Linked DNA regions of Homo sapiens: region 2 is linked to region 1. The links come from fine-mapping of genetic effects on gene expression. A gene starts in region 1. The other region holds a variant in brackets. All regions are shown on one strand. Distances are between the middles of the regions.

Region 1 (15,432 bases):
AATGACTCAGAACAAGGAACTCGAGGAGGGCAAGGACCCTGTCTTTCCTGTTTATCCCTGTGTCCCTGGCGCCCACGCAGGCTTCCTGGGGGAGGTGGGATAAGAAAGAGCCCACCAGCTAGAGAGCCCGGGCACTGTGTCCATGTGGAGGGAGCTGTGGAAGCAAAGGTGGAGGGGGTGCATCTCCAGGGGTCTGTGCAGGGTCTGGGGGAGGGGCAGTGGGGATGGGGGTGAGTGAGGCAGAGCAGGAACCTGGCTCCAGACCGTGAGGGCCTCAAATGTTCTGTGGAGGATTGTGGGACACGATCCTTGGACCCCGGGGCTAGTGGGGGTTCCTGAGCGGGAGGATGGGCCCGTGTTGTTAGCACAGTGGCCCTGGCTGTGCCTGACAGGGCCTGGATGTGGCCTGGGAGATTGGGAGATGGGCTGAGCATCTGCCTCTGGCTTGCTTGTGACAGTGCGGAGCTCAGCGACGGGCACCGTGGCCTGGCTGCTTGGAAACCATCCACCGCTCCTGTCCCGTGGTGGGGACCCTAGACTTGGTCCCTTGGGATCTCCTGAGTGATAAGCGTGTCTTCTGTTGGCCTATGAGACGACTGATGGCCAGGGCCCCTGGATAGCCGCAAAGTAGGGGCTGGTTACCAGAAAGACCACGGCACGATTAGAACGTTGGTGCTTTCAGCCCCACACCCTGACATCTGGGGAGGGGAGAGGAGCTGTCTCTGGAGCTGATCACCAACGGCCAGTGATTTAATGAATTTTGCCTACTTAATGAAGGTTCCATAAAAACCCTAAACCACAGGGCTGGGCAGGCTGGGTTGCTGAATACAAGGCAGTGCTGTGGGTGGTTGGTGTGCCCAGGGGCCTGGAGGCTCCGTACCTGCCCCCTGTACCTTGACCTGGGCACCTCTCCTTCCGGCTAGTCCTGAGTTGTGTCCTTTATAATAAACCAGTAATCAAATGGGAAAGTCACTTCCAGAGTTCTGTGAGCTGTTCCAGCAAATTATCAAGTTGAGCAGGGAGTTGGAAGAACCCCTAATTCATAGCCAGTCAGACAGAATACGGGAGGCCCAGGACTTGTGATTGGCATCTGAGGTGGGGCAGCTTTATGGGACTGAGTCCTTAAACTGTGGGTCTGTGCCCGCTCTGGATGGTTAGGGTCCGAACTGGATTGAATTGTAGGACAGCTAGCTGGTGTCCAGGGAGGTGGAGAATTGGCTGGTGTCAGGAAAAACCCACACATTTGGTGTTAAAAGTGGTATGAGTAACAACAGTACAGACAGATAAACCTTGCCTGGAGGGAAGTGCGTACGTCAGAGAGGAAAAGAAGCGGGAGGGTAAGACGGTGCGGTTACTACGGAAGACAGCATGACAGGTCTCCACAAAATTAAATGTAGACTCTCCGCGCGACCCAGCCATCCACTTCTGGGCATCTGCCCGAAAGAATTGAAAGCAGAGGCTCGAAGAAATATTTGTACTCCGAGGTTCACAGCAGCATTTTCACAGCGGCCGGCAGGCAGAAGCTACCCAGGCGTCCATTCAGAGATGAATGAATAAACAGAGTGTGGTCCCTCTATGAGTAGAACATTACTCAGCCTTAAAAAGCAAGGAAATGCTGGCGCCTGCTACAACATGGGTGGACCTCGAGGGTGTCATGCTCAGTGAAATAAGCCCGCCACGAAGGGACAAATACCATCTGATCCACTTAGACAAGGCTGCTAGAGTCACCAAGTTCATAGAGACAGAGAGTAGGATGGTGGGGGCTGGGAGAGGGGGGAATGGGGCGTGAATGTTGAATGGGGGCAGAGTCTCAGTTTGGGAAGATGAAAGTTCTGGGGCCGGGCGTGGCGGCTTACACCTGTAATTCCAGCACTTTGGGAGGTTGAGGCGCGCACATCGCTTGAGGTCAGGAGTTCGAGACCCTCCTGGCTACCGTGGCGAAACCTCGTCTCCACTGAAAATACAAAAAATAACTGGGCATGGTGGCGTGTGCCTGTAGTCCCAGTTACTGGGGAGGCTAAAGCACGAGAATTGCTTGAAGATGGGAGGGCGGAGGCTGCTGTGAGCCGAGATCGCACCACTGCACTCCAGCCTGGGCGACAGAGACCAACTCTGTCTAAAAAAAAAAAAAAAAAAAGTTGTGGACGTGGATGGTGGTGATGGTTGCTCAACGCTACGAATGTGCTTAGTGCCACAGAATTGTTCCTAAAAATGGTTAAAATGGTCAGTTTTATGTTATGTATATTTTCCCACAATTTAAAGAAAAATGAAAAATTTTTTTAAAAATTTATTTTATTTTTTTTGAGACAGGGTCTCGCTCTGTCTCCCAGGCTGGAGTACAGTGGTGCGATCTTGGCTCACTGTTACCTCCACCTCCTGGGTTCAAGCGATTCTCCTGCCTCAGCCTCCTGAGTAGCTGGGATTACAGGCGCCTGCCATCATGCCTGGCTAATTTTTGTATTTTCAGTAGAGACGGGGTTTCACCATGTTGGCCAGGCTGGTCTCAAACTCCTGACCTCAAGCGATCCGCCCGCCTTAGCCTCCCAAAGTGCTGGGATTACAGGTGTGAGTCACTGCACCCGGCCAGAAAAAAAGAAATTTTTAAAAAGGCTGAACAATCAATGAGTCAAGCACATATTTCCAGAAGTGAGATGAAGAACAAACCCAGAGAAACTGAAAGCGAAGGAAGAATGCATATGCAGGTTAAAGGAAGAATGCATATGTAGGTTAATGAAACACAAGATAAGAATACTATGAGCCGGTACGCGGCTAGTATCAGAAACGAGAAAGGGGATGCCACTTCGGGGCAACCACTTCCTCCCCACTGTGCCCAGGACTGGGGTTCCAGACCCAAGGCTGTCTGGAGTCCTGGGAAACCCCTGTCTCGAGCCCCTCAGCAAAGAGGGACAGCTGGTTACCCCACGGATCCTGCAGACATCCAAAAGACAGGAAGAAGATATTGTGAACAACTTTTGCCAATTTCAACAACTTGAAAATTTGGATGTAATGGACAATTTCCTAGAAAAATAGCACAAATCAAAATTCAAGCCAAGGAACGGGAGTCTGAGGAGCCCCCAGCTCTGAGGGGACTGGGCTTTCTGTGCTGGGTTCCTCGTCCGGGACTCTGCGCCATGCTTCTCCATCAGCTGCGGGTCTGGGTGCTGGAGATTCCGAGGAAGGGCACACCCCCACCCCTCAAGGCAGTCACAGATACCCCCCACTTCACGGGCAATTTCAGGGGGCTTTGCACTCCCCAAGTCCGACTTGCTCACCCCAGGGACAGAGGTTGAGAGTTTCCAAGCCTGCCCCTTTACATCCAATTCCAGCTCCAGGGTGGGGGCATTCTGGGGTGCTGTGCAGAGGTTGCTGGGGGGCTTCCAAAGGAGGGGAGAGCAGCTGTGGCCGGAGGAAGAGGGATGTCAGAGAGGCTTCTCCGGGCCTGGGAGCATGTTCGCCATCCGTCCAGAGCCACCACCCCTGGTCACAGGGGGCCTCCTGCATCCTCAAGCCACGGCCTTCCTCAGGCCCTATGGTCTCCCAGGCTATAGCTGGAGGGTGGAGTGTCCCTACGGTTCTGCTGCCCATCTGGACAGCTGATCTGGGCGTCTGGCACCCGCCTGCTCCCTGCTCACTCTGGGGTAATGGCATCAAGATCTCAATCACTACAGCAAAAATAACAGGTGTCAGCAGGGCGGGCAGAGCAGACTTCACTGGGGCCTGCGTAGCCTCCAGATGAGTTTCCTGGGGACAGTGGGAATTTGGGGGCAGACAAAGCTAAGCATCTCTCAGCCACATTTGCACAGTGCTCATGCCCCTGCCTGATGTCAGCATCGGCCTGGGATTCCCCCTCAGACCAGCCGCTAACCACAGCAGCTCCCTCCAACCCTTACGCCTCGGCTTTCCTGACATCCGAGGGGATGAGAATCCTCACAGGGCTGCAAGTGTCCTGCAAACGTAGTGTGCTGGCTCTCCAGCCTCCATTCACCAGCCCTGCTCTCAGAACTCATGGAGCCAACACCCAGGCAGAGCTGGCCGAGCTCCAGGTGGAGGAGGTAGAGGTCACCTGAGGTGGAGGAGGTAGAGCTCACCCCAGGTGGAGGAGGTAGAGCTCACCCCAGGTGGAGGAGGTAGAGGTCACCCGAGGTGGAGGAGGTAGAGCTCACCCGAGGTGGAGGAGGTAGAGCTCACGCCAGGTGGAGGAGGTAGAGCTCACCCCAGGTGGAGGAGGTAGAGCTCACCCCAGGTGGAGGAGGTAGAGGTCACCCGAGGTGGAGGAGGTAGAGCTCACCCCAGGTGGAGGAGGTAGAGCTCACGCCAGGTGGAGGAGGTAGAGCTCACCCCAGGTGGAGGAGGTAGAGGTCACCTGAGGTGGAGGAGGTAGAGCTCACCCCAGGTGGAGGAGGTAGAGCTCACCCCAGGTGGAGGAGGTAGAGGTCACCCGAGGTGGAGGAGGTAGAGGTCACCCCAGGTGGAGGAGGTAGAGCTCACCCCAGGTGGAGGAGGTAGAGCTCACCCCAGGTGGAGGAGGTAGAGGTCACCCGAGGTGGAGGAGGTAGAGCTCACCCCAGGTGGAGGAGGTAGAGCTCACGCCAGGTGGAGGAGGTAGAGCTCACCCCAGGTGGAGGAGGTAGAGGTCACCTGAGGTGGAGGAGGTAGAGCTCACCCCAGGTGGAGGAGGTAGAGCTCACCCCAGGTGGAGGAGGTAGAGGTCACCCGAGGTGGAGGAGGTAGAGGTCACCCCAGGTGGAGGAGGTAGAGCTCACCCCAGGTGGAGGAGGTAGAGCTCACCCCAGGTGGAGGAGGTAGAGGTCACCCGAGGTGGAGGAGGTAGAGCTCACCCCAGGTGGAGGAGGTAGAGCTCACGCCAGGTGGAGGAGGTAGAGCTCACCCCAGGTGGAGGAGGTAGAGGTCACCTGAGGTGGAGGAGGTAGAGCTCACCCCAGGTGGAGGAGGTAGAGCTCACCCCAGGTGGAGGAGGTAGAGGTCACCCGAGGTGGAGGAGGTAGAGGTCACCCGAGGTGGAGGAGGTAGAGCTCACCCCAGGTGGAGGAGGTAGAGCTCACCCCAGGTGGAGGAGGTAGAGCTCACCCCAGGTGGAGGAGGTAGAGCTCACCCCAGGTGGAGGAGGTAGAGGTCACCCGAGGTGGAGGAGGTAGAGCTCACCCCAGGTGGAGGAGGTAGAGGTCACCCGAGGTGGAGGAGGTAGAGGTCACCCCAGGTGGAGGAGGTAGAGCTCACCCCAGGTGGAGGAGGTAGAGCTCACCCCAGGTGGAGGAGGTAGAGGTCACCCGAGGTGGAGGAGGTAGAGCTCACCCCAGGTGGAGGAGGTAGAGCTCACGCCAGGTGGAGGAGGTAGAGCTCACCCCAGGTGGAGGAGGTAGAGGTCACCTGAGGTGGAGGAGGTAGAGCTCACCCCAGGTGGAGGAGGTAGAGCTCACCCCAGGTGGAGGAGGTAGAGGTCACCCGAGGTGGAGGAGGTAGAGGTCACCCGAGGTGGAGGAGGTAGAGCTCACCCCAGGTGGAGGAGGTAGAGCTCACCCCAGGTGGAGGAGGTAGAGCTCACCCCAGGTGGAGGAGGTAGAGCTCACCCCAGGTGGAGGAGGTAGAGGTCACCCGAGGTGGAGGAGGTAGAGCTCACCCCAGGTGGAGGAGGTAGAGCTCACGCCAGGTGGAGGAGGTAGAGGTCACCCGAGGTGGAGGAGGTAGAGCTCACCCCAGGTGGAGGAGGTAGAGCTCACCCCACGGCACCTCTTTGTCTTGTTGCATCGCCTGATTCAAATATCCTGCCCTTAGTCCTCATGCAGCCCTGTGTGTGAGCAAACCCTGCATCTACCCTGTCACTCGGTCACCTGCACCAGCTGTGGCCATTTCTCTTTTCAGGTGATCTGTATTGTTTGGATAGGGCCATGTCAGCCTGCCGTGGCATAGTTTTGAGATGCTAAGAGCTGGGTTAACAAGCAACCATGAGTAAGCCAGTTCGTCAGGGGTTCCCTGGGGTCCCGAGGGGTCCGTTGGAGGTGGGGCCGCCTGGCTGTGGTGGTCAGCAGCAGGTGACGGCAGTGCAGGGAGGAGGGATATCCGAGGTGGGACCGCAGGCTGGGTCCTAGGTGGGCTCTGGGAAGTAGGGAGGCAAGGGGAGAGGGACACGGGACAATTCCCAGCCACTGTTGTCACACACCAGGTGCTACGAAGACAGAACCAGAACATCTGGAAGCCACAGAATAGACACTAGGGCTGAGCCACAGCCTCCCACAAATGTGCAGCGATGGAAACACTGTCCCCCGAGAGGCCCTGCTGGCCCCACACTTGGCCATGGGAGGGCAGTGAACGAGGTCCCAGAATGTCAGCACCAAGGGCTGCCTGCCCATCCCCACCCCAGTGCGCAGCCTGCAAACCCGTGGCTGCCAGGGACGCCAGTCACCTGAACGTCCACAGCCAGCAGCGGCCCCGGGCTCTCTCTCCACCCTGCAAACCTGTGGCTGCCAGGGACGCCGGCCACCTGAGCATCCACAGCCAGCAGCGGCCCCGGGCTCTCTCTCCACCCCGCAAACCTGTGGCTGCAAGGGACACCGGCCACCTGAATGTCTATAGCCAGCAGCGGCCCTGGGCCCTCTCTCCCCAGGCTCTCTCTCCTGGCTGAAGGCTGCCTGTGTGTGCATGCAGGCGCGCCTGCTTGCATCCGTGACTGGCTGCACGCTCAAGGCAAACACGTGAGCAAGTGGAAAGTGCCCCGGGAGCCAGGAAGGTGCCTCCTGGCCATCCCCTCTCTTTGCCGCGTCCCTTCCAAAGTGTCCTGGCAACCTGCTCTCAGGAGGGTGCAGGGAAGTGACCACCCCACTGACCTGGATCACGGTGTCCAGCCCCAGTAGGGGCTGTTGGGAGGCGTCCCCATTGCCAGGCTCACTGGAGGCAGAGCTCATTGCAGCCCAGAGCGCAGGACCCCAGAGAAGTCTGGGCTTTGCTACCTGGCAGTTCTCCTCCAACTGGCCAGGGTCTTCCTTGGTCCACGGGCCCCACACCTGTGTGGCACCTGGCTCTGCAGTCTTGTGTCCCGAGCCTGGGCACCCAGTTGCTCTTGCCCTGTGGGTAAGACAGTATGGCCAGCTGAGCCCGTAGGCATTGCTGTGGCAACCGGGACGCTGAGAGCTGGGTTTCCCTGGAAACAGGAGTGCAGGACCCTGTTGCTGTGGGGACAAAGGAACGCTGTTGGCTGGAAGCAGTTTTGCCTGGAGACCTGGAGACGCCCTGGGTAAAACTGTCTACCTGAGCAACGGCACCTGGGAGGGGCTGGCCTTTCCCCCAGACACCCCCTCCCGCATTCGCTCCAGGGGGAGCCGTGTGCTTGCTGGACACACGGTGGGCAGAGGCAGCATGCAGAGCACTGGTCTTCCTTCATCTGGACTCATAAACTATGACTTTTGAAAAACATTTGTCAAAGAACGTAGTGGTCGTCGCAGGTGGTGGACTGAGACCTGGAGAGGGACGCTGCCTGCCTGAGGGGCAAAGGAATCTTGTCTTCCTGGCCTTGCACCTGTGAGTCCTTCTGGAGTCTGACTCCCGCTAGAGCCCTTCAGAGTCACCTGCCCATGGGTCCACCCTTGCCCTGGGAACCTGCACTGTTTCCCACCCTGTGGAATCGGAAAGGACCACCAGCCACCCTGTCCGAAGGGGAGAAGTCCCTGGTCAGCATGCGTGGTGGAGGGTCTGCAGAACTTGCCCACGGCTTCCCACCCCAGGGGCTGCCAGGGGCTGTCTGGATGCCAGGGCAGGGCAGCTTCCCATAGGTGGGGCAATGGGAGGGAAGCAGGGCCATGCCTGCCACCCCCAGGCCGGCTGTCCCTACAGACGCAGAGCTCTGTGGCTCGGAGTCTGGGCCTCCTGGGGCCTCAGATGAAGTCAGGTGCCTGGCAGGCAGCCATGCCAGCGTTTCCGCCCCATTCCACTCCCTCTGGGGCTCCTCATTCTGAGCTGGGACCTCCTTGAGCTGATGCTGGCAGGAGTCCCTCTGGGGAAGGGACAGCCGCAGAGGTGGGCCCTGCAGCAGGAGTGGCTGCCCTCCCATGAAAGGCTGCCCTGTTCAGGGGCCTCTGGGGATGGGTACATCTCCGAGTCTCTCAGAGACCCAGGTTCTTGGAGCCAGCCCAGGAGACCGGGAGGCAGCCTGCCCAGCAAGGCCACAGGGGCCCGGGCAGTGGAGGTGGATGCCAACTTGGGGGACCAGCATGTTTGTCCCTGGGGCTGCCGAGAGAGGGGCTGAGGGCCCAGGCCACCTCCTCAGAGGCGAAATTCAAGAAGCAGAGGCACCTGTACTCAAAAGGAGCCCTCCCAGAGAAACACCTGTGCTCTGTTCACCCCCACTCCTGAGGACAACCTCCAGGGTGGCCCTGCAGGGACAGGCCAGGCTCTCTGGCCAGACATGGCCCCATGGGCATCCGGGCTGGGCTTCACTGGACAGTCCCTGGGGTGCCAGGGGCCTGGTCAGTCCTTCCGAACCTCGTGCTTCTGGCCCAAGCATGACCTCTGGCTTCAGGTCCAGACTGAGGACACCCACTCCATGGGCTAGGCCCCTCCCTGAGCAGCCTCCAGATCCCCCAGGGACCCAAGACTGCCGGTCGCCCACCCTCAGAGTCCTGGGAGGCCCTGTGGCCATGGAGAGTCCTGCCCTCCATGCCTCAGCCTGAGTGGGGAGGGGCAGCGTTTCCTGCTGGGGCTCCGCTGAACTCCCCTGAGGTGGGTCAGGGCTTAGAGGGTGTGGCCCTGGCCTCTGGTGAGAGTTCCTGCTGGGGGCAGGGCGGGTGGAGTGAGGAAGGGGCATCCGTGTGGACCTGTGAACGGTGGGGAGTGGCTGGGAGGCTAGTGTGATCTCCCATGCGGGCCTCTTGGATAGGTGGAGATAAGACCTCATATGCCAGAAGCAAGTCCTGTGTCAGTCCTGACACAGATGCCCATGTTCAGGGGCGGCCCGGTGGCCTGAGTCGGGGTGTTGGAGAGACACCCTGACCTGAAGCCGTACATCCAGGCCAAAGGTGACGTGCACTGGGCCCAGCCAGGTGGAGACACCCCCTGTGGCCTCTGCAGGTGACGGCTCTCAGGAGGGCTGGTGGGCAGGGGCTCCCATCTGTGTTTAATTTTATTTTTATTTATTTATTTATTTTTGAGATGGAGTCTCGCTCTGTCTCCCAGACTGGAGTGCAGTGGCCCTATTTTGGCTCCCTGCAACCTCCCCCCACCAGGTTCAAGTGATTCTCCTGCTTCAGCCTCCAGAGTGGCTGGGATTAGAGGCACTCGCCACCATGCCCAGCTTATTTTTGTATTTTTAGTAGAGATGGGGTTTCACCATGTTGACCAGGCTGCTCTTGAACTCCTGACCTCAAGCAATCCTCCCGCCTTGGCCTCCCAAAGTGCTGGATTACAGGCGTGAGCCACTGCGCCCGGCCTGTCTGAGTTTTAGAAAGTTCCTTCTGGCTGTGGAGTTGCCCTGGACGAGACCAAACGTGAGGATGGGATTTTGTCGGTCCAGGTGGGCATCGCCTGGAGCCTCTGTGCCATCTGGGGTGGGCGTGGCCGCCTGCAGTTCAGCCTCCCCCGCCTGCGGCAGCTCCAAGTCCATGATTTTCCCAGATGTCCTCCCGTGCCCCTTTTCCTCAGTCACTGCAGGGTTTGCCCACGGAGGAGGGATTTCCTGGGAGAGTCCTGGTGAACCATGAAGGTTGGTCCCTCCTCTTGGTGGGGCCCTGACCCAAGGCAGGCCCTCCTTGCCGCCCACCTCCTCTTAGCCTTGGGGTCCTGGCTGCTCCACCGGACGCATCCTCGTTTCTTTTCCACTTCTCCCCCTTTGCTGCTTCTCCCCCTTAACCCTGCCCCCCTGTGTCTGTACAGGAAAGCCCACGCCTGCCGGCGGTGGCCCGGAGTCCCCCCAGGATGCCTTTCCAGGGCGCGAGGGCTGGCCCAGCCCCGTGCATGCCCCCCAAGGCCTCACTGCGGGGTGTCCATTATGGGGCTCCCAGACCAGGGCCATGGCTAGACTAGAAGAACCCACAGGGTAGGCCTTGGCCGGAGCCTGGCTGGGCCCCCCGGGGAACGCCCTGGGACAGTGGAGGATGGGATAGAGGGTCCTCCCTGAGTGCAGGCGTTCTGTGGGGTGGGCTCTCGGGAGGGCGGGGCTCGGGGGGCCCTGCCCAGTCCTGACCCACAGCCTGATGGGGGTTGAGCTCTTGTTCTCTGGACCTCACGCCTCCCTCCCTGGGACTGGGGAAAGTACTCGGCACCCATGGCCATTCTAGATGCGGTCCTCCTTGTCCTGCCCCACCTGCCTGGCTTTGGAGGCTGAGGAAGAACCCTCCTGGGCTCAGAGGAACACCTGTCTGTAGATACGCCATCACCGGTTTTGTCATTGTTCCCTTGAAACAGGAAACCTTGCTTATCCTTATCAAGGATAACGTTGTATCTCCTTATCAAGGAGATAAGGAGTTACAGCCTTATCTCCTTGGGGACAGTCCCTAATCCTGGCTGTGCTGGGCCCACATGGGGACACAGGAACCGATGATGAGCAGGCACAGACACTCTGGCCGCCAGGCACCCACACAGCCGGCCATGGGTGTCTTTTCCTGTCTAGCACCAGCAGGGGATGTGCCTCGGACAGAACCCAAAGAGGCTGTGACCCAGGTCAGCCCCGGGGAGCTATGGAGCCACTCCTCTTGAGCAGTCACTGGCTGTCCTCTCAGACAGTCTACTCTGCCAGGTGTGGACTTGGCTCTGAGGAGGAGACGCTGGCCCTGGGGGGTGCAGAGTCACTGAATGAGCTGAGACAGTGATGGAAGGCAGGAAAGATCCCAGTGTGATTACGGCAGGACGGGCAGCCCTGGAGGCTGTGAGGCTGGGACAGAGGGCGCCACATTCTGTCCACTGCCTACCCTCTCTGCAGAGCTGCCCTGCACATGAACTTTCTTCAGAGGGCATGGAAGTGCCACCCCATTCTGCACACAGCAGCCGAGTGGCACCGTCCCACCCCCATCTGTCGGGCGTGGACAGGAGGCCAGCTGAGGGCAGGGGTGGTGGCTGGTGAGGCAAGTGGTCTGATGCGGGAGAACAATGCATTTGGTGTGATTTTCAAGGTCTTTTCCACTCTCCTGAGAGGAGAGGCCAGCTGGATACATGTGCTGGGTTTTAGGGGGCATCCAGATGGTTGTGGGCGCAGGCAGGTCCTGAGAGGTTCTGTGGGGTGGGAGAGAAGACCTCGCTCTTCACCCACCCTGTGTTTATCCACGTGAGGGGTTGCCGGTGGATGCTGCCGTGGCAGGCCCTGGGGGACCTGGGTCCTGGGAGAGGCTGCAGGGCTGCCTGGGGACCCTGCTCTCTGGTGCTTTCTGTCAGCGTGGCAGAGGCTGAATACCACAGCACAGTGAAGAAAGGTGCCTGGGGAGGGACCTCCTGCCTGGGGACCAGAGGAGGCTTGGGGCTACTGGCCTGCCCAGGGATCCAAAGGTAAGAGCCCAAGCCATACAGAGCTTAGAAGAAAATGTAGGCAAAAGCTTCATGACACAGGATTTGGCAGTGATTTCTTGGATATGACATCAAATGCACAGACAATGAAAGAAAAAAATAGATAAATTGAACTGCATCAGAATTGAAAACTTGTGCATCAAAGGATGCTATGAAGAAAGTGAAAACCCACAGAATGGGAGAAAATATTTACCAATTTTATATCTGATAGGGGATTAGTATTGAGAATTTATAAAGAATTCTGGCCAAGCGTGGTGGCTCACACCTGTAATCCCAGCATGTTGGGAGGCCAAGGCAGGTAGGTCACCTGAGGTCAGGAGTTCGAGACCAGCCTGGCCAAACCCCGTCTCTACTAAAAAAATACAAAAAAATTAGCTGGACCTGGTGGCGTGCGCCTGTCATCCCAGCTACGCAGGAGGCTGAGGCATGAGAATTGCTTGAACCTGGGAGGCAGAGGTTACAGTGAGCCGAGATGGCGCCACTGCACTCCAGCCTGAGTGAGAGGGAGACTCTGTCTAAAAAAAAAAAAAAAAAAAAAAAAAAAGAATTCCTACAACCCAACAACAAGAAAACAAACAACACAATTAAAAATGAGCGAAAGACCTGAACAGACGTTTCTCCAAAGAAGATACACACATGGCCAACAGGCATGTGAAAGACACTCAGAGTCGCCTCATCCGAGAAATGCAAATCAAAAACCACAGCACGTCAGCACTTCACAACCCCTGGGATGGCTCTTACCCAGAACGCAGAGGATGAGTGCTGGGGAGGACGTGGAGAAGCCAGGGCTCTCGTGCACTGCAGTGGCGATGGTGTGACAAATCCTCAGAAAATTAAACAGAGTTCCCATATGATCCAGGAACCCACTTCTGGGCATATACCCCAAGGAACTGAAAGCAGAGACTCAAAGAGATATTCATACCCCTGTGTTTATAGCAGCATTTGCACTGCAGCCGATGGTGGAAGGAGCCCAGGTGTCTGTTCACAGATGATGTGGTCCGTCCCCACCGTGGAACATTACTCCGCCTTTAAAAGGAAGGAAATTCTCACACATGCCACAATCTGGAAGAACCCTGAGGATATAACGCCAGGTGAAATAAGCGCGTGCTAAGGCCGACGCTTACCTGAGGTCCCAGGAGCGCTCCAAGCCCTAGAAACGGAAGGTAGTATGGTGAGAGCCAGGGGCTGGGGGAGGGGCAGGAGTCAGTGTGGAGCAGGCACAGAGTCTCAGCCTGGAAGATGAGACGAGCTCTGGAGACTGACGGTGACAATGGCCGCGCCGCAACACGAATGTTCTTCATGGCGCTGAGCCACACACTTAAAGGTGGTCAAGATGGTAAAAGTCATGTTTATTTACCAAAATGTAAAAAACTAAAACGCCAACCACCAAGCAAAACAAAACCCACTGTGGCCAGCACCTGGGGAGACCTAGAGGGTTCCCCCACCCAGCTGCACGTTCCAGGGGAGCTGCAGCCTGTGGTCTGGCCCTGAGCTGGCGACTGGAGCCCCGGACAGACGGAGCTGGTGTCCCCGTGTGCCCAGGTGAGCGGTCTCCATGCCACCACTGAGAGAACACCCCCTTCCCCTCTCTCACACCGCCCTCCACCCACCCCTGTGCCGTCGAGCTTCCTTCTCCCCGGGACACCTGCCCAACCCCTGTCCTGGGCTGAGCCTGCCTCAGAAAAATGAGTCTGCTCCAATGTCTGCTCCCCACTGGATTTTCCAGGTGAGGGATCAGCCCGCCCTCAGCCCCATGCGGCTCAGCTCCTCAGGGTGGTCCAAAGTAGCCCCCAGCCCACGACCCCACCCACCCCGCCACACACCTGACTGTTCCCCAGCCATCTCCGTCCACCTGGGGCGTAACTGCCCATCACCTCCTTCCTCCCCCAGCCCCTGCTTCTTTGCTTTGCTCCTCCCAGCGGGGGTTCACCCCTACCGCTCAGTGCTGCTCCGAGGGGGGCTGCCAGGCTTAGCAGTGGAAATACAGGGATCCCTGTTCTATTCCAACTCCAGATCAACAACAATAAATGTTTGTGTGCCATGCAAATTAGATTTGAACTTCAGATTAATCCTAACAGCTGGGCGTCCTGCATTTTATTCGCCACCCTGATGCAGAGTTAGGCCATGAAGGGGAGGCCGCAGGGGCCGGGCATGTGCTCTGGGCGTCAGGACGCGGGTTTGTCCCTCGTGGTGAGCATTGCAGCTTTATCCTGAAGTCCAGACTGCTCATGTCAGCACGGAAGCTGCTTCCCCGCAGAGGCATCTGCGTAAAGGGCGTCTGGGCGCTGGGCGGCTGGATTCTGTCTGAGAGTCTGTCTCCTGTGGACTCCTCACTGTCCGTTGAGGACCTGGAGCCCAGGCGGGGCAGCGACTTGCTCAGGCCACACCATGGTGCCAAGCTCGTCTGCTCAAGTCTGACTTTTCTGCATCCGCACCTAAGCCTGAGCAGGCCTGGCAGGTACTCTGGGCACCTTGGCTGAATCGGACCACAGTGTCCTGGAGAGAAGGGCCCGATGCAGAAGAAGGGTCTCCTTCCCGGAGTACTGCAGGCATTGGTGGCTGGTGTAGACCTCGGCTGGAGACTCCTGTCTTGGTTGCTTTTGCATGCCTGAGGCTGCACAGAGCTGTGCCCACTGTTCCCAAACAGGTGGCTGGGCTAGGGGAGGGGCAGCAAGCACAGGGTCCCTGCAGGCAGCGCCCTGGCAGGGCTCCTGGCACGCGGTGGTATGGGGGCTGCTGACCGTAGCTGGCTGAGGAACAGCCACCTCCTAGTCCCCAGAACCTGTGAACAGGACCTTATAAAGCACAGGAGAGAGTGTGGCCTTACACGGTAACAGACTGAACCGTGGGTGAATTGAGATCTTACGTGGTAACAGACTGAACTGTGGGAGGCCTATGGGATGAGATCATCTGGGACGGCCTGGTGGCCCTAAATGGTCTCCCCAGTGTCCTTGTAAGAGAAGCAGAAAGAGATAGCACAGCTGCCCACAGGAGAGGGCCACGTGAGGACGGAGATGGAGAGACGTGGCCAAGGAACGCGGCTGCACTGGAGCTGGGAGAGGTGGGAGCTGCGCTTCCCTGGAGCCTCCGGAGGGAGCCCAGCCACACAACACCATGCTCTTGGACGTCTGCCTCCAGAGCTGTGAGAATTCACTTCTGTCATTTTACCTCCGCCGTGGTCTGTCGCACCCCTGGAAACATGCCCCTGCTGTGGGCTGCAGCTGCGTGGAGCCCCCACGGCTCAGGGTGTGCCCCTGTTGCTTCCCTAGGTTCAGCCCTGGGACTCTGTTCAGGCCGGAATGTCTGCTTCCCACCCCGCCTTTCCCAGCACATCCGGGACTTCCTGAAATACAGGATCCGTGCTCTGGCCCTGAGCTCTACTGAGAGACTGAATCAACACCCATCTGAGCATTTGCGGTTGCCACAGGTGCCAAGGAACCCCTTCTTGAGTTGCCAAGGCCCCAGGACACGTCTGGTTTCTCTGACCCTCCCCACCCTCACCACGCTACCCTCCTGGGGTCAGAGTTGGAGTCCTGGGTGCACTGTGGCTAGTGGCTGCCTGAAGGCCTCTGGAGCACTTGGCCCCTTTGTGGTCAAAGCTGCCCAGCCGTCCAGGGCGGGTGCCCGCATCCCCTCCGTCAGCAGCGGCTCTCCTCTCTCTCCCACAGGTCCAGCTTCCCGGGGACCTTTGCTTGTCCACAGTTCCCTGGTGTACTCCACATGCTCCTGTGTGCCTGGCATCGTGCCTGGCTCTAGGGTACACTGAGGAGTGTGACACCGTTCCAGCCATAGGGAGCTCACCATGTCATTCACCACCTGCCAGAAGGGCCAAGGGGCAAGGATGGGGCCTGGCCCATCAGAGGCTCTGACCTCAGCTGGGGCACAGGTGGAGAGAGTGGGGTCCCTTGGGGCAACCAGCTGGATTCAGCT
Region 2 (15,432 bases), 27 kb before region 1:
ATGATCATGTGATTTTTGTTTTTAATTCTGTTTATGTGGTATATCATATTTATTGACTTATGTATGTTAAACCATCCCTGCATCCCTGGTATGAAACCCACTTGATCATGGTGGCACACACTTTAAATAAGCAGACATAGACAAGTTGAAGGTAAATATATGAAAAGGATATACCACGGAAACACTAAGCATAAGAAAATGGAAGTGGCTATATCAGTATCAAAAAAGTAGATATCAAAAAAGTAGATATCAAAAAAGAGTATTGCTAGAGATAAGAGGAGATGTTTTATAATGATAAAATACCAATTCCTCATGAAGAAATAAAATACTAAATATATATACACCTAATAATAGAAATTCAAAACACATGAAGCAAAAATTGGCTGTGGAAGAAACTAAGGGGAGATCTAGTGGAAGAAACAGACAATTCCATTATCACAGCTAGAGATTGTAATGCCCTTCTGTCACTGACTGATGCAGCAAGTAGACAAAAACAACCAATCAAAGAAATAAATCAACACACAAAAAAACCCCAGTAAGGACTTAGAAGATTTAAACAGCACTACTAAGCAACTTGATTTAATTTATATTTATAGAACAATGCACTCAGCAATAGCATAATACACATTCTTTTGATGTGTTCAAGATAGACAACAGACTGGGACATAATACATTTAAATCCATTCAAATAATACAGAGTATGTCCTCCGATCGTGATGGAATTATGTTAGAAATTGATAACAATTAGACATTTAGAAAACCCTATTTGGAAGTTAGGCCATATATGTCCAAATAATCCACGGGGCAAAGAATAAATCACATGGGGAAAGAGAAAATAGTTTGAATTGACTAATAATAAAAACACAACATGCAAAATTATTAGGATGCAGATGAAGAAACATAAATAAAAACTAATAAGAAATTGTAATAGATTTTATATCTGTTAAAGAAATTGAATTCATTATCAAATGCTTTCTCACAAAGAAAACCCCAGACTCACATTATTTCATTAGTGAATTCTGCCAAACATTTAAGAAATAAGTAATACCAATTTTACACACACACTTTCAGGAAACAGAGGAAGAGAGACTACTTTCCAGTGTATTTTAGGAGCACAACTCTGATTCCAAATCTGATGATTCCAAGGAAAGAAAATTACAGAAATATTACTCACAAATATAGATGCAAAAATCTTTAACAAAATATTTATAAGTTGAATAAAAAATATATAAAATGGATACTAACTCACGACAAAGTAGGGCTTATTATGTATGCAAGTTTAACATCTAAAAAATTAATCAGTGTAATTCACTACATTAACAACATGAGGAGAACAATGATGTGATCATCTTAATAGTTCCAGAAAAAGAATTTAGCAGAACCCAGTACCCATTTATAATTTTTTAAAAATGTCAGCATACTAGGAATGAAGGGAACTTCCTTACTCTGATAAAGGGCATCTATGAAAAGCCTACAGATAACATCATATTTAATGGTGAAACATCAAATTATTTCCCCATGATTGCCTTGGGTGGAAGTATGGCCACTCTCACCACTTATATTCAACTTTGTTCTGCAGGTCTTAGTGCAATAAGATAAGAAGAAGAAATAAAAGATATTCAGATCAGAAAAAAAGTAAAACTATTGTTACAGATGAATAATTATATAAACATACAACCTTAGTACTTATAAGTGAATTTGTCAAGGTCACATGACTCAAAATAAACATATGAAATTGTATTTCTATAATAATGAACAATAAGAAAATGACATTAAAACCGTAATATAATTCATGATATAAAAATCTAGAATTAACCTAATCAAAGATGTGGAAGAAAACTCTACATTGAAAACTACAAACATGGCTGAGAGAAAGAAAGTAAAGACATGGAGAGATATACCATATTCATGGATGTAATATTCAGTATATTTAAGATGTCCATTTCCTCAAGTTGATCTATAAATTCTAAACAATTTTAATCAAACTCCTAGTAGGCTATTTTGCAGGGGAGGGAAGAAGAAATTGACAAGATGATTCTAAAATGTATATGCATATGCAAAGGATTTAGAACAGCCAAAACGATCTTGAAAAAGAACAAGGTGGATGTGTGTACACTACTCAATTTCAAGACTTACTAAAAAGCTATCATAATCAAGACAGTGTGGTTTTGGTGAAAGAATGAATAGATTGACTTGCACAGATCAACAAATCCCACATATATGATCCGTTTATTTTCAACAAGTTGCCACATTTAATCAAGGACCAAAGGAGAGACTTGAAAAAAATGGTGCTGGAAAAACTGGGTATTAGTATGAAAAATAATGGACCTTAGTTCTTACATCATACCATACACATGTGGTCCTCACACGTTAGTGTGCAGCAGGATCCCAAGGAGGGCTAATTAAAATCCAGATTTCTGGGCCCCGCCCACAGAGTTTCTGATTCAGTAAGTCTTGTGTGAGGCATGAGCATTTGCATTTTTACCAAGTCCCCAGGTGTATCAGTCTGTTCTCACCCTGCTGTAAAGAACTACCTGAGACTGGGTAATTTATGAAGAAAAGAGATTTAACAGACTCACAGTTCACAGGCTTAATAGAAAGCATGACTGGGAGACCTCAGGAAACTTACAATCATGGCGGAAGGTGAAGGGAGAAGCAAGCACCTTCTTCACATGGTGGCAGGAGAGAGGGAGTGAAGGGAGAAGTGCCACACACTTTTAAACCATCAGATCTTGTGTGAACTCACTCAACATCAAGAGAACAGCAAGGGAGAAATCTGGCCCCATGAACAAATCACCTCCCACCAGGCCCCTCCTCCAATTTGACATGAGATTTAAGTGGGGAGACAGATTCAAACCATATCACCTGGTGATGTTTATGCTGCTAGTCTGGGAAGCACACGTGGAGAACCCCTGCTGTCCATAAAAATAAACTTGAAATGGATCATAGATCCAAATGTGAAAGCCAGATGAAAATGTAGGAGGATATCTTCTTGTCCTTGGGGTAGGCAAAAATTTTTCAGACAGAACCTAGAAAATACTAATTGTAAAACTAAAAAAAGAAATAGATAAATTGGAGTTTGCCAAAGTTAAAATTTTATGTCCATCCATAAAAAATATCATTGAGAAAATGTACAGGCAGCCACAACCTTGGGGAAAATAGTCATAGGACATGTATCTGACAAGGTACTTGTATCCATGATATATAAATTCCTGTATATTCATAACCAAAATGCAAAAGCCCAGTTTAAAAAATAGGAAAAAGATTTGAACATTTGATAAAATAAAGCATACGAATATCCAATACATGCATGAAAATGTGTTCAATATCTTCAGTTATGAGGGAAATGCAAATGAAATCCTCAGTGATGTATCACTTCACATATACAGAATAGCTAAAAAAACAAAAAACAAAACCCAAAAAAACAGACAATACCAAATGTCGAGAAGGCAGAGGAGCAACTGGAACTCTTCTACACTGCTGGCTGCAGCAAAGTGATTGAACCACTTTTGGAAAGCTGCCTGCTTTTTCGGAAAGCTGCTTGGTTGTTCCCTATAAAAGTTCAACACACACCTATACAGTGAGTGCACAGTTTTGGTCCTAAGTATTTAGTTAGGAAAAATAAAAATATATGTATGCGACTTGTACAAGAAGGTTTATAGCAGCCTTGTGCATCACAGTCCCATATCAGTCGCCTCCCAGCAGGCCCCTCCTCCAATTTGACATGAGATTTGGGTGGGGACACAAATCTAAACCATATCACCAAGTGTGTGTCACACAATGCAACATAAGTACAGGGCCAAGGCAGTAGAAGGGAGTCACATCACTTACATAATGGACCTAGACATAAGCCACAATGCTCTTTGTAGGCAGGGTTCAGGCAGAGAATTCACATCACCTGGGTGCTGGTCCCAGTGATATGTAAAAGTGCCCTTTGTAGGCAGGGTCAAGGAAGGACCTTGTAGGCAGGACCAGTATTGGAAACATTGTTGCTGGACAATCCAAATGTCCAGCAACAGGTGGATGAGTAAGCAGATGTGGTTTACTCATCCCAAGGAATATAACTATGCAGTTAAAAAGAAAGGGCTTAGTGATACACTGAACAACATGTATGGATCTCCAAGACATGATGCTGAGAGAGAGAAGCTGGACACAAAAGCGTCCACACTGCATGGCTCCATTTATAAGGAATTCGGAAACAGGTGCATCCAGTCCGTGGTGCTGCACATCAGAGCAGAGGTCACCTGGGTGGGAGCCGGGGGCTTTGGGCAATGGCTGAAGGCACGTGGGGGAACCTGCTGGACTGACAAAAATGTTCTGTGTCTTGATCCTGGTGGCGGCTACCTGGCTTTGTACAATTGTCAAAATTCATTGATACTGTACACTGACTTATTAAATGTCAATAGAAAAAGAGGAAAAAGGTGACCCCAGAAAAGGACAAGGCAGAATCTGAAAACGGAAGGAGGGTTGAGCTGTCCTGAATGTGACGGGGGCTGCGGAATCTGAGTCACAGGGGCCTGAAACTCAGCATGGACAGGGTTTTCACACGGATGAACGAGGCAGGATTGGAAAAAACCAAGACTGTTTTTTTCTCCAGTGAGTTGAGCTTCCTCAACAAAAGATGGGGAAATTGGGAATAAATGAGTGAGGCACCAGTGAATGTGCAGTCGCAGAGTTCAGCTGTGTGGATGTGGACCAGGGAGAAACAAGACAGAGGAGGAAACAGCAAAGCTCACTAAGAGCCCAGTGTGCAGAAGTCACTGGCCTGAGGCCCGGGCTCCCCTGCCAAGTGGCGGGATGGATATGGTGGCCAGGCCTGATGGGAATCTTCTTCTCTGCATACCTTCCCCCTGCCCCCACCCCCACGGGGAGGCCAGCACTGGGCCTGATCCGTTACCAAGACAGAAAGAGCTGATGTGGGCATCCTGAGCCTGCCTGACTCCCAGAAGTACCTTAGGCAAGACCTGCCACCCAGCCGCATCCCAGACGGCGGCAGCATGCCCTGCAGACGTCCTCACCTGGCCCACCTGCTCCTGGAGCTGGGCCTTCTCTCGCCCCAGCAGGGCTGCCTGCCCCTCCAGCTGCTCCTGCCGCTGCTCCAGGCGTCCGCAGGCCTGCTGCAGGCCCCTGCGCTCTGCCCGCTCCAGCGCCAGCTGCTGCTCCGCCTGTGCCAGCTGCTCCCCGGCCCGGGCCCGTTCCTGCTCCAGAGTCTTCCGCTGTTCCCGCAGCTGGTCCCGCTCCTGCTCCAGCTGCCACCAGGTGTCGGGGGCTCTGCATCCACTCCCCCCATCCTCGGTCCCTGTAGGCCAGCCATCCCCAAGGCCTGCCCCGGGGCACTGTCTTCCCTCCCTCAGGCCTGGCCCAGGGGCACTCTCTTCCCTCCCTCAGGCCTGGCCAGGGCTAGTCAGGCTCCCTTGTCCCCAAAACCTCAAACCAGGAGAGGAAGTGATCTGGGAGGATGGAAAGAAGGCCTAGGGCTGGGAGACCCACAGCCACCTGGGAAACAGGTTCCAGCGAGGCCCGCCCCACTGGCCCTTGTCTCACCTGGAGAGCCAGGTGGTTCAGGGCACTTTTGTCCTGAGCCAACCCCTCCATCAAGGCGGCCATTGCGGCCAGGGAGTCCCTTTGCTCCACTCCCTCCGACTTCAGCCGCCTCACAAGAAGCTCCAGGTCCGCATTGCTGCACTCGGCCTGGGGCAGGGAGGGGGATGCCAGGGAGGGACCTTCAGCTTCCAGGGCAGGGCTGTTGCCGCTGGGAAAGGAGTGAGCCCTGAGCCACGGAGGTGTGCAAGCCAGAGCTCTTGGGCGGACATGGTGGGAAGGTCGCCACAGTGGGGAGGTCTCAGGGCCAATGGTGGCTCCAGGCACTAAGGCTCCAGCCAGAGGAGGTGGCTGGTGGTCCAGGGAGAGGCCACAAAGAAGCAGGCGTGGCCAGCAGGGTTGACAGCAGCTGGGCCAGGCTGGTGCCTACTGGTTGGGGACGGGAGAGAACTTTGGTGACTTTGGGATCTCTGGTGATGGGCTGAGGGGCCCGGCAGGCAGGAGAGAGGGAGTGGGAGGCCAGGTCAGTGAGGCCAGGGTGGGTGGGGGCAGACAGGAGAGGGGGCGGGGTTGTGGGGAGCAGAGTGTACCCGCGCCAGGGCGCTGCGCAGTCCCTCCCTCTCACTCTCCACGACATCCCGCTGCAGCTGTGCTGTGCTCAGTGCCTCCCGGACCGATGCCAGCTCCTCTCTGAGCCCGGAGACCTTCTCCTCCAGCTGCTGCAGGCGGCCTTGACTGAGGCCCCAGACCAGAGGGCGGGAGGTCGCTCAGGGTGAGCAGTGGCTGCCCCATGGGATTTCAGGCAGGCGACCACCTGCAACTCCCTCCAAGCCCAGGGAGGCCCAGGAGGAGCATGGAGTCCCTGGAGGACCAGGAAGGCAGGGAGCCCTTCGCTTCCAGGCTTCATTTCCGGGGCAGGGGAGGCACAAGTGCCTCCGGGGGGACGGGAGGGGTGGGGCCCCACATCTGATGGGCCCACGGGGTGGTGGCCCAGGTGGGGCACTGGGCCAGAGGAAGTGAGGGTTGGTCTGGAGGATGGTGCAGCCTGGGGAGAAGCCTGGAGAGCCCCCGCCCCTGCCCTGTTAGGGCCACCACACCCTGAGATGAGACAGGTGAAAAAGCAGACCCGTGGCCCAAGGCCAAGTGGCTGATGGTGGCAGAGTGGGGTCTCTTCTGTGGGAGGGGCCCTGCCCACCCAGCCACGGCCGCGCACCTGGTCTCCAGTGCCCTGCAGCTCCGCTCCCTCCGCAGAGCCAGCTCCTCCCTCCGCTCTGCCTGCAGCAGGAGGCTTCTCTGCAGCTCTGCAGCCTCGGCCTCCAGCCCCTGCTTCTCCGCATCTGCAGCATCTGCCTTCCCTTTCAGCTCCTCCACCACCATCTCCAGAGCAGCCTTCTCCCTGGGGATGGTGGGGGCAGAGTTGGGGCGGCCCTGGACACATTCAAGGTGCACCGCGTGCCTTGGTGGGCATTGGGGGCTGGGTGGATGCCAGCCCCTGAGACTGCATGGGCAGAGGGAGCCTGAGAAGCAGACAGGGTCTCACTGGCGGGTGTGTCCCACCCTGGCCCACGCTCAACTGGTGCTCACACAACTCTGCTAGAAGGCAAGGACCCCTCCCCGGCTGGCAACCCCTCCAGCTCTAGAGGTGCTTGTCCTGACAGCAGCCCTGGGCCCTCAGGATCCCATACACCCTGTGCAAGGCCGTGCAACCCCTTCACCCCATTACCTCCCCAGGAGCTTGCAGGATGCCCGGCACTGCTGCACCTCGAGCCTCTGGGCCTCCAGCTGGCCCCGAAGAGCCTCTCGTTCCCGTGCCTGCTCCCGAGCCCGCTCCTGCTGGAGCTTCTGTGCGGCCCACAGCTCCCGCCGGCTTTCGGACAGCTGCTCC[T/C]GGAGACTGGCCACCAGTGCCTGGGAGGACTTCAGCTGCAGGCACAGCTCCTGCTCGGGTGGGGTAAGTTGTGGGCCTCTCTGGCCTAGGCAGGCTTTGCCCACCGAGGCCCACCAGGGCTTGCGACTCCCCAGAAAGGACACCCCCGACACTGGGGCCCCTCCCTGGAGCCATGGGGCTCAGGGGCAGGCCCCATAACTACCCTTCAGCCTGAGGGGCTCATGTTTCTGCCCTCAGGGAGACAGGGAGTCCTGTGGGCTGCGGCTGCCCACCTGTTCCCGCCGCCACCGCCTCTCTATGGCTGCCCGCATGGCCTGCAGTGCGGGGTCCAGGGTGGCTGGGGAGCAGATGTGTGGTGGGGACGCCCCTTGATGGGGGGATGTGGCACGTTGGGGGCTCCTCAGTGGGCGCCGTGGCTCCCCCAATTCAGTGATGCTGCTACCTGCCAGCTCCAGGCACCGGGCGTCCTCCTGGGCCACCTTCAAGGTGCAGAGAGGAAGGGATAGAGGGGCCCAGAGCACAGGGCCATGATTTGGTGGGGACCGCGCAGACAGTCCTGAGGGTCCCTGCGGGCTACCTCCACCTTTGCCACTGGGAGGACAGGCGAGGGGCCACACCTTCCTGACGTGCCTCAAAGTGCACTGCAGGGACCCCACCTTGCCCTGCAGGCCGTCCACTGCCGCACCAGGCTTCCTGTGGCAGGGGAGACTCCTGAGCAAGGGTGACAGACCCCTGCCACACAGCCACCCCCGTCCTGCCCACCAACCAGGTTCTGCAGGTCGGTTCTGAGGGCAGCGATGGTCTTCGCCTTCTGCTCATTCTGCTCTGTAAGCTTCTCCACCAGCAGGGTTTGCTCCGAGAGTCTGGGAGGAGTCGGGGGGTGTGGGGGTGAAGGGCAGGGCCCAGAGGACGGGCACCCAAGCATGCCCTGGCTCTGCCCGGACTCCTTTGTGCGGTGGCCCCCCTGCCGGTGCTGGGTGATGCCTCCGTCTGAGTGGCCTCTGTCCCTGGTCTGAGCATGTGTCTCTCCTGCCACAGAGCCTTCAGTGGCTCCCAGTGTCTCAGGAGTCAAGGCCCACACCCTGACCAGCTCTCCAGCCTCAGATGCAGTGGCTGCCCGAGGCTCTGCCTTGTCCTTGTGGCACAACAGAGGGAGTGCCCACCACAGGCCTTTTCCTGGCCAGTCCTTCTGCCTGGAGCACCTGTCACCATTAGTCTAACAATAAGTAATTTTACTGTTCCTTCCTTCCCAGGATGCACCTTCTTCCTAAAGACCCCAGGTCCCCCTTCCTGTGGCTCAGGCCCTGGTGTGCTGCCCCTGCAGCTGTATGGCACCGTTGGGCCCCCATGTCCTGTCTTGCTCATTTGGGGCTGGGTTGTGGTGTGTTTGACTCAGCTGGACCCCCTGAGGGTAGGGAGGGCTTCTGCCTGTCAGCCTGGTGGGGTGTTTGTGGACAAGTGGGCCCTGGACCCTGGGTTGTAAGGCACTGGCCCCACGGCCAGCAGGTTAGACCTCCACTGGGGAGCCGCCTCCCTACTTTCTGCTGAAGCTGCCCTCAAGAGACCTCTGAGCCCCCGATGTGGGTGGTGGGTCCAAAACCTTCCACAATCACGGCGGGGCTCATAGACCCCCAGAGAGGGCGTGGGTGTCCTTCATATCGGGCAGGAGGTGGCCTGGTCCCTCTTCCTGCCTCGGTTTTTATATGATTTACCTAAGGTGAGCTCTTGCCCCTAGAAGAATGTTCCTGCTTTAAGCCTGAAAACTCCAGTTCTGGGTGCTGACCCCCAGGACGCAGTCCCAGTGAGTTCCCTGCCGTGCTCCCTGAAACCCTCACTGTAGGAGACCCCAGTGTCTGCCTCCTGGGCATTAGGGGAGTGCCCTGCAGCCACTGGGATGGTGACTCTGAAGAGTGTGCACCACCAGTGACATCAGGGCCCCACCTGCCCTGGAACGGTGTGACCACATCTGGGATCCACAGCTGCTCGGCACGCTGGATGGGCCCCGACCCCCCGGGCCCTCCCTGTGCAAGCTTGCTGGCCCTGGGCGCCCACCTGGCCTGGAGCGCCACCTTCTCTGCGTCCCAGCGGCCCTGCAGCTGCAGCATCTCCCCAGCCTTGTCCCGAAGCTGCTGCCCCAGGGTGCTGGCCGTGCTGCTGGCCGACAGCCGCAGGTTGGAGTCGAGGTTCAGGCAGGCGGTGTGCAGGCGGCGGGCTGTCCTGGCCGTGTCTGCCTGCAGGTCAGCGAGGCCCCTGGGAGACAAGGGCAGCATCTGTGGCGGACTCAGGACCCATCTGCAGAGGGAGGGCCTGGTCCCATCAGCCCCACAGAGGACCCCCTCCTTGGCCATCGTCAGGAGAAGCCCCCACTGCATGGCATTGATTGTTCCCATGTGTCACCAAACACCAGGAAGGCAGCTGGGGAGGAGTGAGCAGGGGCAGGACCAGGTTGCACACTTCAGGCTTCAGCAGCCTTCACCGAGTCATCGACCCTCTGAGCCCCCGACTCCTCCTGCGCAAGGGGCTGCTACGTACCTAAGGGCTAGCAGGGTGGTACCAGGACTGACCTCCAGTGTGGCACCCAGCAAGGGCTGGACAGACTCCAGAAGCTCCATCTGGGTAGGTGTCCCCCACCCCACAGTGTCCTCTTCACCCTCCTCTCATCTCTCCTTGGTGTCCCCAACCTACCTCCCTGGCCTGTTTGTCCTTCTCCCCTACTGCCCTCCTAGGCTGCCCTCATCGCTGCTCCCACTGGCCGGCCTGAGGCCCAGCCAGGGCTGGGTGAGAAGCCGGCAGGCCAGGGCTACTGCACCCACGGGAGAGCCCGCCCTGGGCACCGATTTCCCCCTCCCCAAGGGGGTTTCAGCTCCCTGCAGCCTGGTGCCTGGCCCCAGGTGGGGCGGCTGGCACTCACCTCTCAGTGGCTACACGCAGCTCGGCCAGGTCTGTCCCCAGCACCACGGCCTGTCTCCACAGGAGGAGGAGGTCCCGGGGCTGCCCCAGGCCCCCTGACCGGGTCTGAAAGCAAGAGGCCTCCTGTCTACTTCAGGCTGGGGCCCCTTTACCCTCCCTGAAGCCCACTCTTTTCCAAGTGCATGTCCCTCTCCATGGGGGCTGGAAGTGGACCCAGCATCCCAAAGCCCCCATATCTCACAGGCAAATGAGCCCTGGGCTCCCCCAACCCCACCCTGGGGCCATACTGTGCCCCTCCCCAGGAGATGATCTGGGGACGTGACCACATCCAGCCCTCCCAGGCCAGCCTGCGTGCATGGAGGTGGGAGGGTGGGGTGCGTGGGCCCCTGAAGAGAGAAGGTGCTGACTCAGTCGCGGCTCCCCAGCTACTCTCAGGAACTGCTCAGGCTTGGAACACCCCAGAACCAGGCCTGGCCCCTGCTGGGGCAGACATTTCTGCAGCACAGGGCTCCTGCCCTGCCACTCCAATGGAAGAGGACGGGCTGCCTTTCTCCAGTACAGTCTTTCTCCTTACTCTGGAGGGCTCCTGAAGATGTCCAGGTGTTGGTCTGGCACTTCGAAGGTGCCAGGGACACAGAAGCAAGTTAGAAGCCTCTAGCACTGGGTACCCAGTTCAGCAGGGAGGAGGGTGGGAAGCCACAACCGAGACAAGGCCAGTGATTAGGCTGTAACGGAGCGGAGTGGGAGGACTCTGTGTGGGGGCAGGAATGGGGGGAATTGTGTGTGCACAGTGGTTCCAGCCTTGCAGGGAGCTAAGATGAAAGCCAGAAGTCTCAGAGTCTCCACACCACCTTCTAGGCCCTGCACTCACCTTCTCCTGCTCACTGACCTCTGGAACTCAGGGTGCTACTGTGTTTCTACCACCTCTGCCTGCCTGTGACAGCCCCACCCCTGCTCCTCCAGGGTGCCTTCAGGTAGAGCACTCACATCCTGCCCGTTCTCCAGAACCCCCAGAGAGGACCATGACCAGAAACCAGCGGAAACAATAGAACGAGACCTTGAAGAACTTCAGGTATTAGATCAACTCACCTTCATGAAGCTTGCCTGACCCCCTCACCTGATCCCACACCTGAGATTCCCCCCAGCTGAGCCCATAACACCTGGCCATACACCCTCCGGAGAACACATCCCTCTGTGTCCATTCCACCTGGCTGTACACCCTCCAGAGGGCATGCCCCTCTGTGCCCATTACACCTGGCCATGCACCCGCTGGAGGGCACGACTCTCTGAACCCATACCTGGCCATACACCCTCCGAGGGCATGCTCCTCTGAGCCCATTACACCTGGTCATACACACTCTGGAGGGCATGACTCTGTGAACCCATACCTGGCCATACACCCTCCAGAGGGCATGCCCCTCTGTGTGCATTACACCTGTCTGTACACCCTCCGAGGGCATGCTCCTCTGAGCCCGTTACCCCTGTCTGCACGCCCTCCGAGGGCGTGCTCCTCTGAGCCCGTTACACCTGTCTGCACGCCCTCCGAGGGCATGCCACCCCGTGCCTGCTGTACGGGGTAGACGCTTGCTTCAGCCGCACCGCCTCCTGCACTCCGTGTTCATCACAAGAGCAGGCTGAGACACTTCTTGGCAACATGGAGGTGTGGCTGCCAGATTAACCTGCCGCTTAAACTCATGAGAGTCCAGATTCACAGCCTCTTCCTGAATGCAGGGCTGGGCTGGCCTGAACGGCTGGAACACTTAGGCCAGGAGTTGGTGAAGTCACAGACCATCGGGGAGTGTACGCAATTTCTTGCTACACACACACACACACACACACACACACACACAAAACAGGCACACATGACCCTGCAAGAGATTATAAGGAAAACTGCCTGTCCAGAATGTCGGAGTTAAACAGAGAAAAAAGTCTTCCTTGTGGATATGGAAGCACACTACATCACCAGGATAGTCTCAAGAAAACTGAAGCTGAAAATGTACTTCAATGTGGCCCCAAAGACTGTTAGAGCCCCTTGGCATCTATCAGAAACAAATAAAAACCCTTCCTAGAAAATACTGTATTCACCTCAGGTTTCAAAGAAACTTCACAGAGTTCCAAGGAAAATAAGCAGCTCTTAGTTAAAAAATAAAAAATCACCAAAGGCACAAGGAAACAAAGGACCATGATCAGAAACCAGCAGAAACAATAGAACCAGACCTTAAAGAATTTCAGATATTGGATAGTCAGACACAGGCTACAAAAAGACTATTTTTAACATGGTTCAACAAATAAATAAAAGGCTTGAAAATGTGAGTTAAGAAGCCAGGCGAGGTGGCTCATGCCTGTAATCCCAGCATTTTGGGAGGCTGAGGCAGGCGGATCACCTGAGGTCAGGAGTTCGAGACCAGCCTGGTCAACATTGTGAAATGCCATCTCTACTAAAAATACAAAAATTATCCAGGCGTGGTGGCACACGCCTGTAATCCCAACTACTCAGGAGGTTGAGGCGGGAGAATCGTTTGAACCCGGGAGGCGGAGGTTGCAGTGAGCTGAGATTGTGCCACTGCACTCCAGCCTGGGTGACAGAGCAAGCTTCTGTCTCAAAAAGAAAAAAAGAAAATGTGAGTTAAGAGTAAGCTATTTAATATTTGGGAAAGAATCAAACAGAACTCTTAATGAGGAAAAATACAATATTGGCAATTTAAGCTAAGTAGGCAAATTTAACAGAGATTAGACATCAGAAGAGAAAACTGATGGACTGGAAAGGAAATTTGAAGAAATTATCTAGAATATAGTCTAGGGTAATAAAAAGAACAAATCCGTGAACTGTGCCTGGGAGACAGCGTAAGAATGGCTAACACATGTCTAGCCGGAGCTCAGAGGAGGGGAGATGGATGATGAGCCCCGGCAATGTTTAAAGAATATTGACTTCCCCAAAATAACAAGCGACACAGAGGTTCCGCGAACCCTAAAGCGGGATAAACAAATAAATCTACACGCAGACACAACACAGGGACACGACACAACAACAAGTCGGAGCAGGGGTCTTCAGAGCAGCCGGTGAGAAGACATGTTACTTCGATAAGGAGCCAGTCAGAATCCAGGCAGCCTGGAAGCTGACTTCTCAACAGCAGCAGCGGAAGGAGAAAGAGAAAGCATATCTTTAAGGTGCCGAGAGAAAGCAGCTGTCAACCAGTGAGAACAGTTCTCAAGGACAAAGGGAAAATAAAGACCTGGGTGATCGAATGCCAAACTGAGCTCAGGGACCCTCTCCTTCTGGCATTTGTTCTCACACAGCAGAATCGGCTCCCGGGATCCTCAGGTGACCTGTCCAGCGGTCCAAGGACAGGGACCAGGCAGTGGGAACATGAGATCTGCCTCAAACGCCTCGAGCCAGAAGGCCTGGCATAGGCGATGACTCCTTGCTGATAGCACGGCTCCCGCTGACGCTATGCAGAGGCCGGCATTCCCTCTCGGGGTGTAAACCTCGGCTGGTTTGTCTGACACCTGCCTTTCAGGAGCAGCAGCTGTGGGGGGCTCGGGGCTGGGACCTCGGGGGCGAGTGGCGGCCCCTCTGGGACAGGCTTGTCTGAGGGACGTCTGTGGAGGCAACTGGAGGCCAGAAACGCGGCTGCCCCTCCGGCTCCTGCCTCCACCTGGCGCAGCACATCTTCCGGGGGGCCCGTCTTCCTGGGGAAATCCTTGCCCGTGGTGCCCATAGCATGCAGGGGCTGGGCGTCCAGTCCCCCTTTGCTGGAGGGCTGTTGGGAACACCTTCAGGCCCTCAGGGACTGCCTGGCTGGAGAGCCACGGTACCCAAGGCCACAGCAGCTTCAGGGGGTCCCACGACCATGGAGAGATCCGAGCAGGGCATGAACACCTGGATGTCTCCCTCCCACAGGGGCTGGTGCCTGGAGCTCTGTGCCCTGACCCCCTGCATGCCTCAGGGTCTCAGAAGTTGGAGTGGGAAAGGCTGCAGGGGGACCTGGGGGGCCACGGCCAGGTGCTGTGAGCAGCAGTGCAGCCCCAGGCTCCTTCCAAGGTCCCTGCTCCTGAAGTCTGGCCAGGAGTTCGGCCTACGGAGAACAACCTGCCTCTCCAAAGAGCGTGGTCCACACCAGAGCTGGGGTGCGGCCCCAGTGCCCCATTCTGAGATCCCTGCCCTCCTTCTCCGGGTGGGGGGCAGTAGGGGTGGACCACGAAGTCCCTCACTCCACAGACTGCTGTGGCCAAGCCGGGTTGGGGACATGGTGTGGCAAGAAGCTGTGGCCTCGTCCCCAAGAGGGACAGCCACTGAGCCAGTGCACCCTCACCATGTCCCTGCCTGCTACCCAGCCATAGGCACCCAGACAGGCGGCCGCCATGAGGTGAGCAAGGGTTGGGGGAGCACCTGTCTCTGGGCCCAGCGCCTCAGCTCCAGCTCGCCCTGCAGGCGCTGCACGCTGCCCGTCATCCCGGCCAGCTCCCGGCCCAGCGCGTCATTGGCCTTCTTCATATGTTCCAGCTGCTCCCGCAGGAGCGCGTTCACCTGACAGAGGCCGGTGCTCCTGGACAGAGAACCCACAGGGCATGGTGGGGGTAGGAAGCCTCTCCTAAGAGAGGCGCTCAGAGTCCCCAAGTCAAGGGGCTTGAATGGAACCCCAAACCCTCTGGGCCTAACTGACCTGGGCTCAGGTGCACAGCCGCTGCTCTGCCCCCACCTGCCATGGGCCCCACAAAGGACCCCTAAACTGAGTGCCAGCATCAAGGTGGCTCTCCCAGGTGCCAGCCCAGTGCCCTCCTGCCTCCCTGCGATATCTGCCCCTGCCCCGAGCTCTCCTGGCTCTGGCTCTGCAACCTTGGCCCGTCCCTCAATGCCTGAGACAAGGTGCCAGGGGCTGGGAGGGAGGTGCCTTTCGCGGGGCGGGGTGACGCGGAGAGGGAGTCAGACATGCCCGTGGTGGGGGACGGCTTCTGCTGCACCCTGGGGACTTCCCCACCACAAGTAGGTCCACACTTGCTGCAGTAGGGGTGCAAGTCCGCCAGGTGGGTGGACCTCGGGAGCCGGCACCCCCGCCAGGCCTAAGCCTCCTCTTGGGTTATTTTTCTTCCCCCTC

Alleles and levels. Positions count from the first base shown, and alleles are read on the strand shown. Sizes are in standard deviations (SD) of each study's normalised expression.
For the expression in tibial nerve of the gene that starts at base 7,098 in region 1, allele C in region 2 goes with a lower level than allele T (small effect, 0.31 SD a copy in GTEx).

Evidence for each region. PIP is the estimated chance that this variant, and not a neighbour inherited with it, causes the effect.
Region 2: its variant is the best candidate, but not a certain one, in a credible set for the expression of CROCC2 in tibial nerve (GTEx, PIP 0.82).

Annotation. Positions count from the first base shown.
Region 1 is chr2:240,898,002-240,913,433 of GRCh38, reverse strand. CROCC2 (ciliary rootlet coiled-coil, rootletin family member 2) reads right to left here and starts at 7,098. Exons shown (of 32, transcript NM_001351305.2): 1 at 6,843-7,098. The coding sequence starts at 6,920. RefSeq lists enhancers at 7,945-8,445, 10,257-10,756, 10,757-11,258.
Region 2 is chr2:240,925,175-240,940,606 of GRCh38, reverse strand. CROCC2 (ciliary rootlet coiled-coil, rootletin family member 2) reads right to left here. Exons shown (of 32, transcript NM_001351305.2): 5 at 14,727-14,883; 6 at 10,338-10,441; 7 at 9,479-9,676; 8 at 8,193-8,289; 9 at 7,699-7,905; 10 at 7,265-7,476; 11 at 6,755-6,937; 12 at 6,132-6,276; 13 at 5,545-5,691; 14 at 5,019-5,249. LOC112268440 (a long non-coding RNA gene) reads left to right here and starts at 7,402. Exons shown (of 3, transcript XR_002959483.1): 1 at 7,402-7,489; 2 at 8,095-8,253; 3 at 8,465-9,465. The variant T/C (reference allele first, on the strand shown) is at 7,427.